Linked DNA regions of Homo sapiens: region 1 is linked to region 2. Evidence: fine-mapped expression QTL. Tissue or cell type: blood mononuclear cells. Region 2 holds a variant in brackets; the other region holds the start of a gene. All regions are shown on one strand. Distances are between the middles of the regions.

Region 1 (5,621 bases), 55 kb before region 2:
TTCGGAACGGAGGGTATACAGGATCTTGTTGAAATTCTTAGTGCAGTTGTTTTTTTCCCTGATGGAGGGAGACACAGTATATCAGTGTAGACCTACGATTCTGGTTGTACTCCTAAAAAGTCAAGATGAAATAAGGTAAAACATTTGGAGGAAGACCGTGAGAGTATTGCAAAACTCACAATATTTGCATGCTTACATTTTAGGAAGAACATCAATTTTGTTTTTCTTTCAATGGCCATAAATAGTGCTGGAGTTTTCTTAACACTTTTATTTATGTATATATTCACTTCCTTTGTTAAGCTAGCAATTCTGTGTCATTTCCTACTGTTCTATTGGGATGTCACCTGTAGTTCTAGGGGACGGAAAAGGGACTGTGGGACTAAAGGATTGGGTTAATTACTTTGAAAGCAAAATAAGCATAAAACATGGAAGTTGTTACTTCTGTTTTATTTTATGAGTGTCCACTTTATCTTTTTAAGTAGCAAAACATTTTATTTTAAAGCATTCATTTAAAAAAGTTGAATATTAATCACAGATAAGTTCTTAGGAATATTATGAATTGTAATTTATCGATGATCTAGCTACAGTGGCTTTCAGATTTGTCTCCATATCCATATGAAAAATAACATTTCACAGTTATTGCAGTTAAATATAGCCAAGTCTCAGAACAGTTTCTAAAGTTGAATAAAGATAGGCATTTAAATCATCTGATATTTACTGTCCAAATCTGGCCTTTTCAGTTATCACATTACTTAGAATTTTCAGGTAAACTTTTTTTGCTCATTCTATTGACTCTTGTTAACATTTGTAGTAAAAGACAAACATTTCACCTATCTGGATAAAATATATTCAGCTTCCTGAATTGTTAGCATTTAGAATAAATGCCAACTTGTTTTGATACCCATTACTACTTTCAAACTGCATTACACAATAAAATGCAAATGTGAGTTATTAATTAGCAGGATCTGTTTTGTCCAAGTGTGCAAGAGTAGAGGGATTTTTCAACATTCTGCAGCTGTTACCTATGAAGGAAACATCATTCACTTTGCTAAAAGGAGCTGCACAATTACATACGCTGTTATAGACAAATATTTTAGTGTTTCCTTAATGCTATTTCATAATGGATTTCACATTGAATAAGATAAATTTTACCAATGCTGCCCAATTTCTGTCTCTAGGTTGTTTGTAAAAGAGAGGATGATTACAGTTTTCAAGGCAATGTGGAGTGAAGGTAGAGAAAGAGTTCTTCATGAACGACACAATATTTAGCAAGGTCATAAAGAAATATGCCCATACACGCATATCTATTTAAGTATTCATTTACATATTGTACGTGCATCTCTGTATACATGTTGTGCCCGGTGAACATTTGTGTGAATATAACCTGACGGAAGTCCCATAAAATGACAAAAAATGAAAAACAATGAAACATGTATATGAATGACTACTATAGATGATACAGAAGGTAGACCATTATTCACAAATAATGTAATAAATCCTTTGCCCATCAGATGTTTCTACCTAGATTTGGGGCCTTTAAACATCAACCAATTATGGTAAATGTTTAACTGTAGGAGTTCAGGCAGACAGCCAAATTCTGGTTTCAAAGCTGTTGCTAGTTTTAGCTTAAAGATTTTTTTTTTCATTTTTAAGCAAGAACATTTCTGGATACCGGTTGTGCTCTATTGTGGCTAGAGCCGCTGGGATTTGAATAAGTAAATTGGGCAACACACTGGTCCTGAAGAAATGGGCCTGGCAGTATTACCTGAATGTGGCAAATAATAGGCTACCAAGAGTCCTAGGGAAATACTTCCCATTTATAACTTAGCTCTACTTACCTAAAGCTAGTTTATTCCCACAGACACGAAGAGAGAGAGAGTTGTTTTTCTTAGCCAAGCTCCTACAAAAAACAGCAAGGTTGGGGGATGGGAGCACATCCAATGTTTATGCCTTTTGTTTAGGAAAGCCAGGTATCTGAAATACATACATGATAGCCAACTCCTCTCTGCTCCCCTCCCCCAGGTTTATTTATTTTCTTAACAAGCTTATTAACGAAATTATCAATTTGCATGAAACTGGTTTGAACATTGGCCCTTCCTCAGAATATTTCTTATCTCTTGTGGAAGCACTAACAAAAAGGGTAGAAGAAGGGGCCTAGACAATCCACACGTTGGATTTGCAGCCACTGGATATTTCAGATTCAGCTGCTAAAGCCTCTTTGGTATACACAATGAGGGGCGACTGAAGTGACTTTTCTTAGTCCATTTCCTCTCCTTCTCCCCGTCTCCCGAAGGTACTCCGTGGGTCCCTTCCCTTTCTCTCTTCACAGTCCCTCCTGAGCAGTCCCAAAGCTTCAAACCTTGTTCTCCAACCCCCTTTCCCTAATGTCTCCCAACTACCACCCCCTTCCCCAGTCAAACTCCCCTCCCGGTCACCACCAAAGCCCGGAGAAGTGGAATGCACACAATGCCTCCCTTATAGGGCTTGAGCTGGGAACTGGGCATGCTCAGTAGCCAAAGTAGTTTTTTTTTTTTTTTTTCTTTTGGTCGCAAGTGCGGCATCTCTCCCAGTCCCACGCCTCTCTTTCCTCAACCCCTATCCCCTATCCCCTATCCCCACCCCCAGCTCCAAGATCATCCGGCTTAACCCATTCTGCACCAAAGGCCCACGGAGTTCTAAGGTGCGGATAATTAACCCGTCTCCTTCTAACCCGGCTAAATAGTCTCACTTTAGGCTAAAGCCTCACACTTTCGCCTTAAAGCCCCTGGCCCCTTACGCGCAGACAGGTAGGGGGAGTGCGAATACTACTGGATCCTAGGAAATTGGTTCCCAAGAAGGCTCCTTCCAGGATCGACCGCCACGGAGAAGTATTCCAGGAGCCCTCCGTTCTGCGGGGTGACAATTAGCCAAAGGTACCGTACCCGTGATACAAAATCCAAGTATGATTGTTGCATTTGAATGTCATTGTTGTTGACTCATTCCCCTCCATCCTGTAATTATTCAATTCCGCGTAGACTCGACGACCCTATCGATCTCCCTCGGCCCCCCTCCCCCAGGCTCTCCAGTGTTTCTTTGGCTTTTCCTGGCTTCTTGGTTGCTCTCTCAAAGGAATGCCCCGTGTGTGTGTGTGTGTGTGTGTGTGTGTGTGTGTGTGTGTGTGTGTGTTCCTTCGTTATTAGGGGACTGGAAGAGAAGAAAAGGGCTCGAGTGTGTGTGTATGTGGTGGGGGGGATGGAGGCGAGTGCGCCCTTGTTAGAGGACTGGGGTCTCCACGCCTGAGGAAAGGGGTCGCTCCTCCCTAGGGAATGTTTTAGGCAAAAAGAGGGGGCGGATGCCGGGAGGAAAGCGCGCTGTCTTTCTGGGTGTGTGGGTAGAAGAGGAATCAAATGGGCATGTCTGGATGGGGGACGGGGGTAGGAGCTCAGGAATGTGAGGGGGTCAAAGTGGTCGAGTGTCGGGAGGAAGGACTGCTTGTGTGCGGGGTGGGGGGGGGTGGTGGAGAGCGGGGGCGGGGATTCAGCGCGTGTATGTAAAGGTGCAGCCCGTGTGCTAGGCGCTGGGTGCGCGCGCGGTGTCTGCTCGGGTGCGCGCGCGCGCCGCTGCCCGCCTGCCCGCCGGCCCGCCTGCTCGCCTGCTGGGGCTGCTCCGTGGGTTTGACGGGCGAGCGGGCGCGGAGGAGCTCTGTCCGGAATCACATAGATACCATCGTGGAAACAGCAGCGCAGGTCACGGCGCCGCGGGCCCTGCACCAGACGCTGGGCTCTAGAGGTGGGTGAATTTTCAGCGGGGGCTGCACAAGCTGCACCGACACGCGTGCTGCCTCTTCCCCGCTCAGCTCAGTAGCGCGTGTGCGTGCGTGTGTGTGTGTGAGAGAGAGACAGAGAGAGAGAGAGAGATCTCGCGCGCGCGCACGCGAGCCGAGGGGGCAGGTAGCTTATTATTTTTAGTTTGGGTCCTGTTGGTTTGGGGCCGGTTGAGTGGCCAAAGTGGCCGAGGTGGCTAATCCTGCCCTCCACCTCCCACTTGCCTGCCTACGACGCGGTCTCATGCCGCTGAGGACCGGAAAGGATCCGGGTGTCCTTGGCATCGCTGCCCGCCCCCCCCCCCACCATACCCCAAGCGGCCAGGGCGGCGGGGCAAGTTGTACAGGTCTCGGGTGGCTCCGGCTGTCGGGCCGCTGGGCTGGGTTGGGCTTTATTTTTGCACCCCACTCGCAGCCACTTTCCGCAGACGTGGATCTGAGGCTCGGGGCAGTGGCCCGCGGGTTGGTCGGAGATTGCTAGCGCTCGGCAAGACTAGGAATACCAGAGGAAGAGCCGGTGGGTAACTCTAAAAGCTCTGCAAAGCCAGGCGAGCGCTGCCAGCGCGACTTTGCAAGGGGCCTAAATGTTGAGCTGATTTCTGGCATGGTGAGAGCAGGATTTTTGTAGCTGGCCAGGGAGGGAGAACAGGCAAGGGGGAGCCTGGGCCGCCGCTCGCAGCCACAAAACCACAGGGTCACTCTGCCCGTGGCAAGCAGGTCAGTGACTCCCTAGTGCCAACGTCTTCGAGGCGGCCTGATCTGGCCTCTCTTCCTCCTCACCCACCGCACGCCTGGGTCTAGAGAGGTCCACTGAAACTCCGGCAGCTGCCCCTTGTGGGACGGGAGCGCGCGGAGAAATGTGTGAGCGGCGGGACTGAAGGCCCCCGCGACATCCCGCGCGGTACCCCGCCTCCGCTACACGGACCGCCAGGCTGCTGCTTGGGCCCCTGACGCGGAGGGGGCTGAGCGGCCGGCTCCGGGAACAGGGATGCGGCAAAACATTGCGGTACGCGCTAGCAGCCCCTCCAGCCTCCTCGCCGCCCGCCCGAGGTAGCGCACCCGGGCGGCAATGGCCGGGTCTCTCCGCGAACCTCTTCCACCTCCATCCGAGCCTTAGGCGGGCCAGCGGGGTTTCCCGAGGGAGCTCTCGGGGAGCCACCTCGGCCCACCGCCCTGAAGCCCATCAGTGTTCTGCCCCCCTCAGGCCGCTTCTCTCCTCCCAGTCGCGGAGTGCCAGGCGCTGCACTCCGGTGGATGCAGGATTTGTTTTTGGTCGGGCTAGGTTTGTTCAGTCCTGGCTGGTCGTGAGAGCCAAGGGTCTTTCAGGGCACCGAGAGGAAGACGGACAGCTCCCAGCAGCCACAGAGAAGGCTCTTGGTACCCAGCTGGTACTTTGTGGGCTTTTTCTTTTCTTTTTTGCGTTTTTCCCTTGATGTTTAAATGTGCATGTTTCAGTGGTACCACCGGAGTGTGAGGCTTTATTCGCATACATTCAGTGCTCCCTTTACCCTCTTTGTAGCTCCCTTCTCCGAGTTCTTTTTCTTCCTTTCTCCACATTTCCATGGTCTCTTGCCCTTTCAGTACCTCTTTTCCTCTCTCCTTGGTGGACCAACTGGACTCTTTCTCTCTCTTGCCTGCCCCTCCAGCTGCTTGTGGCTTCCTCTGTTTCACAAGAGCTGCATTTGGGAACTTCCTGGCTCTTACTAGTGCCTTTTCCCCCCCTTGCTACTTAAAGTAGCAATCACCAGGAGGAGGGCAGCTCCTTATGCATTTTCAGATGTGTTGAGATTCCTGGTTCTTGTTTTTGTACTGAATTCGG
Region 2 (5,621 bases):
CCTAATCCAGTCCTTTGTTTCTCTGACCTCATCTTCTATACCTCCTTCTCTTGCTCTCTTTCTTCAAGTCACACTCACCTCCTTGTTATTCGTTGAACTTGAAGGTATTAGGCATGCTACTACCTTACGATATTGTTATTTTTGCTATTTTCTCTACCTGGAATATTGTTCCCACAAATAGTCACATGTCCCACTCCCTTTCTTTCAGGTCTTAATTCAAATATCACCTTCTCAGAGAGACCTTCGCTGATGACTTTATATTAAAAGCATCCTGTCACTTTCTAACCCTATTATGCTGCTTTATATTCTTCGTAGCATTTATCATCAACTGAAATATTACATGTTTATTTGTTTATTGTCTTTCCCGCCTAACTAGAATATAAGTTTATGGAGATAGGATTGCCACTGTTTTGCTTACTGATATATCCTCAATACCTAGAATTCTCCCTGGCATATAGGAGATGCTCACTAAGTACTAGGTCAATGCATGAAACGGACTTTCTTTTCAGTCTACAGCTCTGTTCATAGATTCAAATACCTTCGACGGCACTTTGAAAACAATTCATTTTTCTCGTTAAACCATTTTAGTATTTGTTGAGCTAGGCGCTGAAGCTGCAATAAGAAAAAATAAGGTATTTCTTGCTCTCATAGAGTTAGATCAGTTTCTCACTTTCTTCTTCCCGGTTTCCTCCCCTTGCCACCACTCACACTGAAATGCAGTCCTTCTGTGTTATACACGTTAATACAATGCTATTACTCATTATGTGGCCAGCCAAGTTAAAACCAGAGTGGGTAATTTTATCTCCTTTTTCCCTATACCTTCAAATCCAGTCACTTACCCTGTCCAATCAGTTCTACCTAGTATATCTCTAAGATTTATCATTTCCATTTCACTTCTACTGGCAAATAGATTCCACTTTCTCCAGTCTCACCACGACCTTCTTAGGCTCTCATAATAATCTTCTACTTAAAAACTAGTTCAATAAATTTTCCTGCCTTCTTGCCTGTTCCCCTTCCCTCCAATCTATTTTCTACATTCCAGCCAGGGTGCTCTTTCTCAAATGCAAATACGACCAGTCTCTCCTCTGCTAACTACCCTTTGATGGTTCTCCATTGCTCACAGGACAAAATTCAAATATCTTAAAATGGTGTTTAAGACCTTAAATGATTAGGCACCTACTTACTTCTCTAGCACTATATTTTATTAGTTTTTAAGTCCAGCTCACATATGACTGTCTTTAAGCATCTTCCCAGATCTTCTTCTATTCCATTTACACCACTGGCACAACCTGATCACACTACATTAGAATGAGTAGTGTGCCCAGGAGACTGGCAGTCTTTTCAACTGGAGTGTCAGCTCTAGATACTCACTATGCAATTTCAAATACCTCCTCTGCTGAAATTGTGTTCTCTCCCTTCCCTGACCTCATTCTGTGTTTTCCCTCCTTTCTCTTAACACCTTTTATTCCAGCTAGTGCTGTACTGCTCTCCCCACTACAGACTGAAAGCTCCTGGAGGGCAGGACTGTGTGCCTCCTGCCATAGTCAGGTTTCCAACCTGTGTACCACTGGTCCTGGTGGTTTGCTCAGAGTAGTAGGTACTCAGTCAGTACTTGTCAAATGGGCAGATTGTGCCTATAAATATTTGTACTCATATTGCATTTCTGTCTTTTCCTTTTGATGATATAGTTTCATCATTTACAAGATGCTGTTATGATATTTATGTCTATTAGCCTTTCTGCTAAATAATTGCTTGGCGCTCCCTGTTTTTCTAAATTTGGTAAAAATATCATAAAAAAGCATTTGGTAAATTTCTCACAGAAAGCCAAACACTTTTATGATGTGAGAGACTTGATTTGTTGTATTTATATCAAGTCAATATTGGTTTAATCTTAAATTCACCATTCACCATCTTTTTTGTTTCTCGTTATCAAAACTCATTTTTTATGACTAATTTAATCATTGACTGAACTCACTCAACAGTTGCCCATAGTTACTAAAAGATACAAAATGATACTGTTTATAAGCATTTAGGTCAAAAATGTTCAAAAGAAAAATCAACTAAACTGATACTTTTAATTAGTATTTTGAGGGTTGAGGATTTTTAAAAATTTGTTTTTCACTGAAACTGCTTTGGTAAAAATCAGTACAAAAACAATTGATTTTTTAATTGTCTGGTTTGAAGAGACATGTTGGAGTAACAGAAACAGTCACAACCAAATGCAGCTTCTTCTGGTGGTACACTTCGTTCCATGATGTGGATCAGTTCTAAATATCATTCCAACTATTCTTAGATTCAAGTTATGATACTGTTTTGTTCTTTATATTTGGCTCTGTTTGTAACTCAACAAGTGTCTTGGGTAAGTCCCATGAGTAATAGAAACTGAGAGTAAGCTAGATCAGAAATACTGGATATGGACGATCATTATAAAATGCACATGTTGACTTCTCAAATTATGTCAAGTGACAAGGCTCTTTTTGACACATTAAAGTGATCTGCTCTCTTCAATACTTAATTTATTACTAATGAGGGACTGCAATTGCTTCAAATTAAGTAGCCTACACTTATCATAAGATCTGGCACATTTCTACTTCTGTTTTTAAAAGAATATTTGAAATTAAAAATGTAGAAAATTAGATGCATAAAAATGCATTGTCTAATCAATAACCATAATCATTACCAGCTGTCAAAATGTATCTTAAAATGTTATGAGCTAAATTATGCTGTAAAGACATGCATAATTTTTTATAGAGATTTAGCTGTATTTGTTGACCCATTGATCTCACTCCAGTACAGCATGAACCAAGGAAATAAAAGGGGAACAGAACATAATGGAAGAAAGAACACTTATCCAGGAGGCAAGAAACTCAGCTTAACCATTTATTGGCTGTCTGAATTTGGGCAAGTCACTCTCCACTGTATGTTTCCATTTTCCCACCTGTAACATGAGATGGTTGGACCTGAGCAAAGGTTTCTGACTGCCTGGTAGCCCATGCTGATTCCATGATTCAGCCCATGCTGAAAATTCAATTCAGTTCCGTTCAAGTCAGTTCAATCCAACAATCTTGAGGGACAGCTATTGAAGCAGAAGTTAAAAAGAGAAAAACAAGTTTTCCTATACTTGGCTGACTCACTCCAAGGCCAGCAATAGGCAGGGCCCTGGCAAAGTCTCAATAACACTATCTGGAAAGCCAGAGCCCAAAGGAATGAGCTCC[G/A]GAGACTCTCCCAACAAACCCCTCCCCCTCCCTGGAGCAAGGATAAGAAAAACAAATTCCTTTACTATCTCCTCTTCCCCCTTACCATTACTCAGTGTCTCAAGTTTTGTAAGTTCCTGTTTTCCCTTCCATGCAGCTGTAAGGTCACAAGCTATGCTTAGGTTACAAAACCTGTCACAGTTTGATTAACTGCCTTTGTTCTGCTTCTGTAAGCCTGCCTGCCCGCCTCACAGGTTTTGTGCCCTCAGTTTCCTGCCACTGCATTAAAACTAGCCAATTCCCTTTCAGAAGTGTATATAAAAGTCAAGCCCTGTGTTTGTTCAGGGCTCAGCCTTTGGATGTGAATCTGCTGTGCCAGTAGCCACCTAAATAAAATCCTCCTGTTCCACCCATTGGTCTCTCTGGTCTTCTGATTCCCACAACACTACAGCACCATATTATAACATAATACTGCCAAATGTAATATAATATAATATGAACATGATAAAAGTTTTTAAAATCAGATAAGAATTTGACTCAACTTACAATCTATATGATCATAAAGAAGCCAATTCAAGGGAGGTAGAGGAATATGGTGGAATAGAAAGCTTCACTGATAGTTCCCCCAGCAAGGACATCAGATTAACAGCTATCTACTCAGAAAACACACCTTTATAAGAACCAAAAATAAGGTGAGCACTCAGTACCTGGTTTTAGCTTCATATCACTGAAAGAGGCACCAAAAAGGTAGAAAAAACAGCCTTGAATTGCTGATGCCACCCCTCCTCAATCTCTGGCAGTGGAATCCTGGTACAGAGAGTATCTCTGGGCACTGGGGGAGGGAGAACACAGCAATTGTGAAGCATTGAACTCAGTGCTGCTCTGTTAGAGCAGAAAAGAAAAACCAGACCAAACTCAGCTGATGCCTGCCCACAGAGGGAGCATTCAAATCAGCCTTAGCCAGAGGGGAATTTCCAATCCCAGTGGTTCAAACTTGAGTGCCTGCAAACCTTGCCACCCAGGGCCAAAGTGCTCTTAGTCTCTAACTAAACTTGAAAGGCATTCTAGCCCATAAGCACTGCAACTCTTAGGTGAGTTCAAGGGCTTAACTAGGCCTAGAGATAATGGATTAGAAGGCCACATGACATACTGTGACACCAGCTTTGGCAGGCAAAATGTGCTGGCATCACCCCTCCCCTAATCCCAGGCTGCACAGCTCACAGCTCCAAAAAAGACCCTTTTCTTCCTCTTGAGGAGAGTAGAGAGAAGAGTGGGGAGGATCGTTTCTTGCACCTGAAATACCAGCTTAGCCACAGCAGGATATGGCACCAGTCAGAGTCAAGAGGCTCCCATTCCAGGCCCTATCAGCCAGATGATATTTATAGATATACCCTGGGCCAGAAGAGAACCTATTTGAAGAAAGGGATCCAGTCCTGCTAGCATGGGCTCTGAATAACCAGCAGTAATATCCAGGTGCTATGCTACATCAAGGGTTTTGGTGAGCCTCTGAGACTTGCTGGCTTCAAGTACCAACATCACCACAGGGGTGTAGAGCAGCAAGTCAAGACTGTTTACTCTTGAATGACATTTCTGGACCTGCCCTGTGACAGAGGGGAGTGCACTGCCCTGAAGGATGAGTCCCAGGACAGACAGCACTCACCACAAGCTGACTTAAGAGACCTTGAGACTTAAGGGAAAATCAGTGGTAGTCTGGCAGTACTCCTTGTGGCCAGGGGTGGCTCCTCTGCCTTTGGAAAAGGGAGGGAAGAGTGGGAAGGACCAAAGCAAATATGGACAAATGGGATCACGTCAAGTTAAAAAGCTTCTGCACAAAAGTTACAATCAACAAAGTGAAGAGACAACCCACAGAATGGAAGAAAATATTGGCAACTACCCTTCTGACAAGGAATTAATAACGAGAATATATAAGGAGATTAAACAGCACTATAGAAAAAAATCTAATAATCTGATCAAAAGATGGACAAAATATTTGAATAGATATTTCTCAAAAGAAGTCATACAAATGGCAAACAGACATATGAAAATGTGCTCAACATTAGCATCAGAGAAATGCAAATATAAACTACAATGAGATATCATTTCACCCCAAATGTCTTGGATATGGCTTATATCCATAAAACAGGCAATAATAAATGCTAGCAAGTATGTGGAGAAAAGGGAACTCTTGGACACTGTAGGTGGTAATGTAAATTAGTATAACAACTATGAAGAACGTTTTGTACGTTTCTAAACCAAGTGATTTGAGAATCACAATGACCAAGAGAGAAATTTCAACTTGGAGACTCAGAGGAAGACACATATATTCTTTCAGTGATCATTTACTGAACTGCATTGTGCTAAGCAGGGGTAAAGTGATGGATAAGAAGAAACACTTGCCTTTCTTCACAAAACCAATGAAGATATTTT

Evidence for each region. PIP is the estimated chance that this variant, and not a neighbour inherited with it, causes the effect.
Region 1: it holds the start of SLITRK4, and the variant in region 2 is fine-mapped to the expression of SLITRK4 in blood mononuclear cells (TOPMed, PIP 0.92).

The regions. Positions count from the first base shown.
Region 1 is chrX:143,633,026-143,638,646 of GRCh38, reverse strand. It overlaps SLITRK4 (SLIT and NTRK like family member 4), which reads left to right and starts at 2,546. Exons shown (of 2, transcript NM_001184749.3): 1 at 2,546-2,912.
Region 2 is chrX:143,578,177-143,583,797 of GRCh38, reverse strand. No RefSeq gene overlaps it. Among named protein-coding and RNA genes, the nearest start is that of SLITRK4, 55 kb to the left of the region's middle. The variant G/A (reference allele first, on the strand shown) is at 3,216.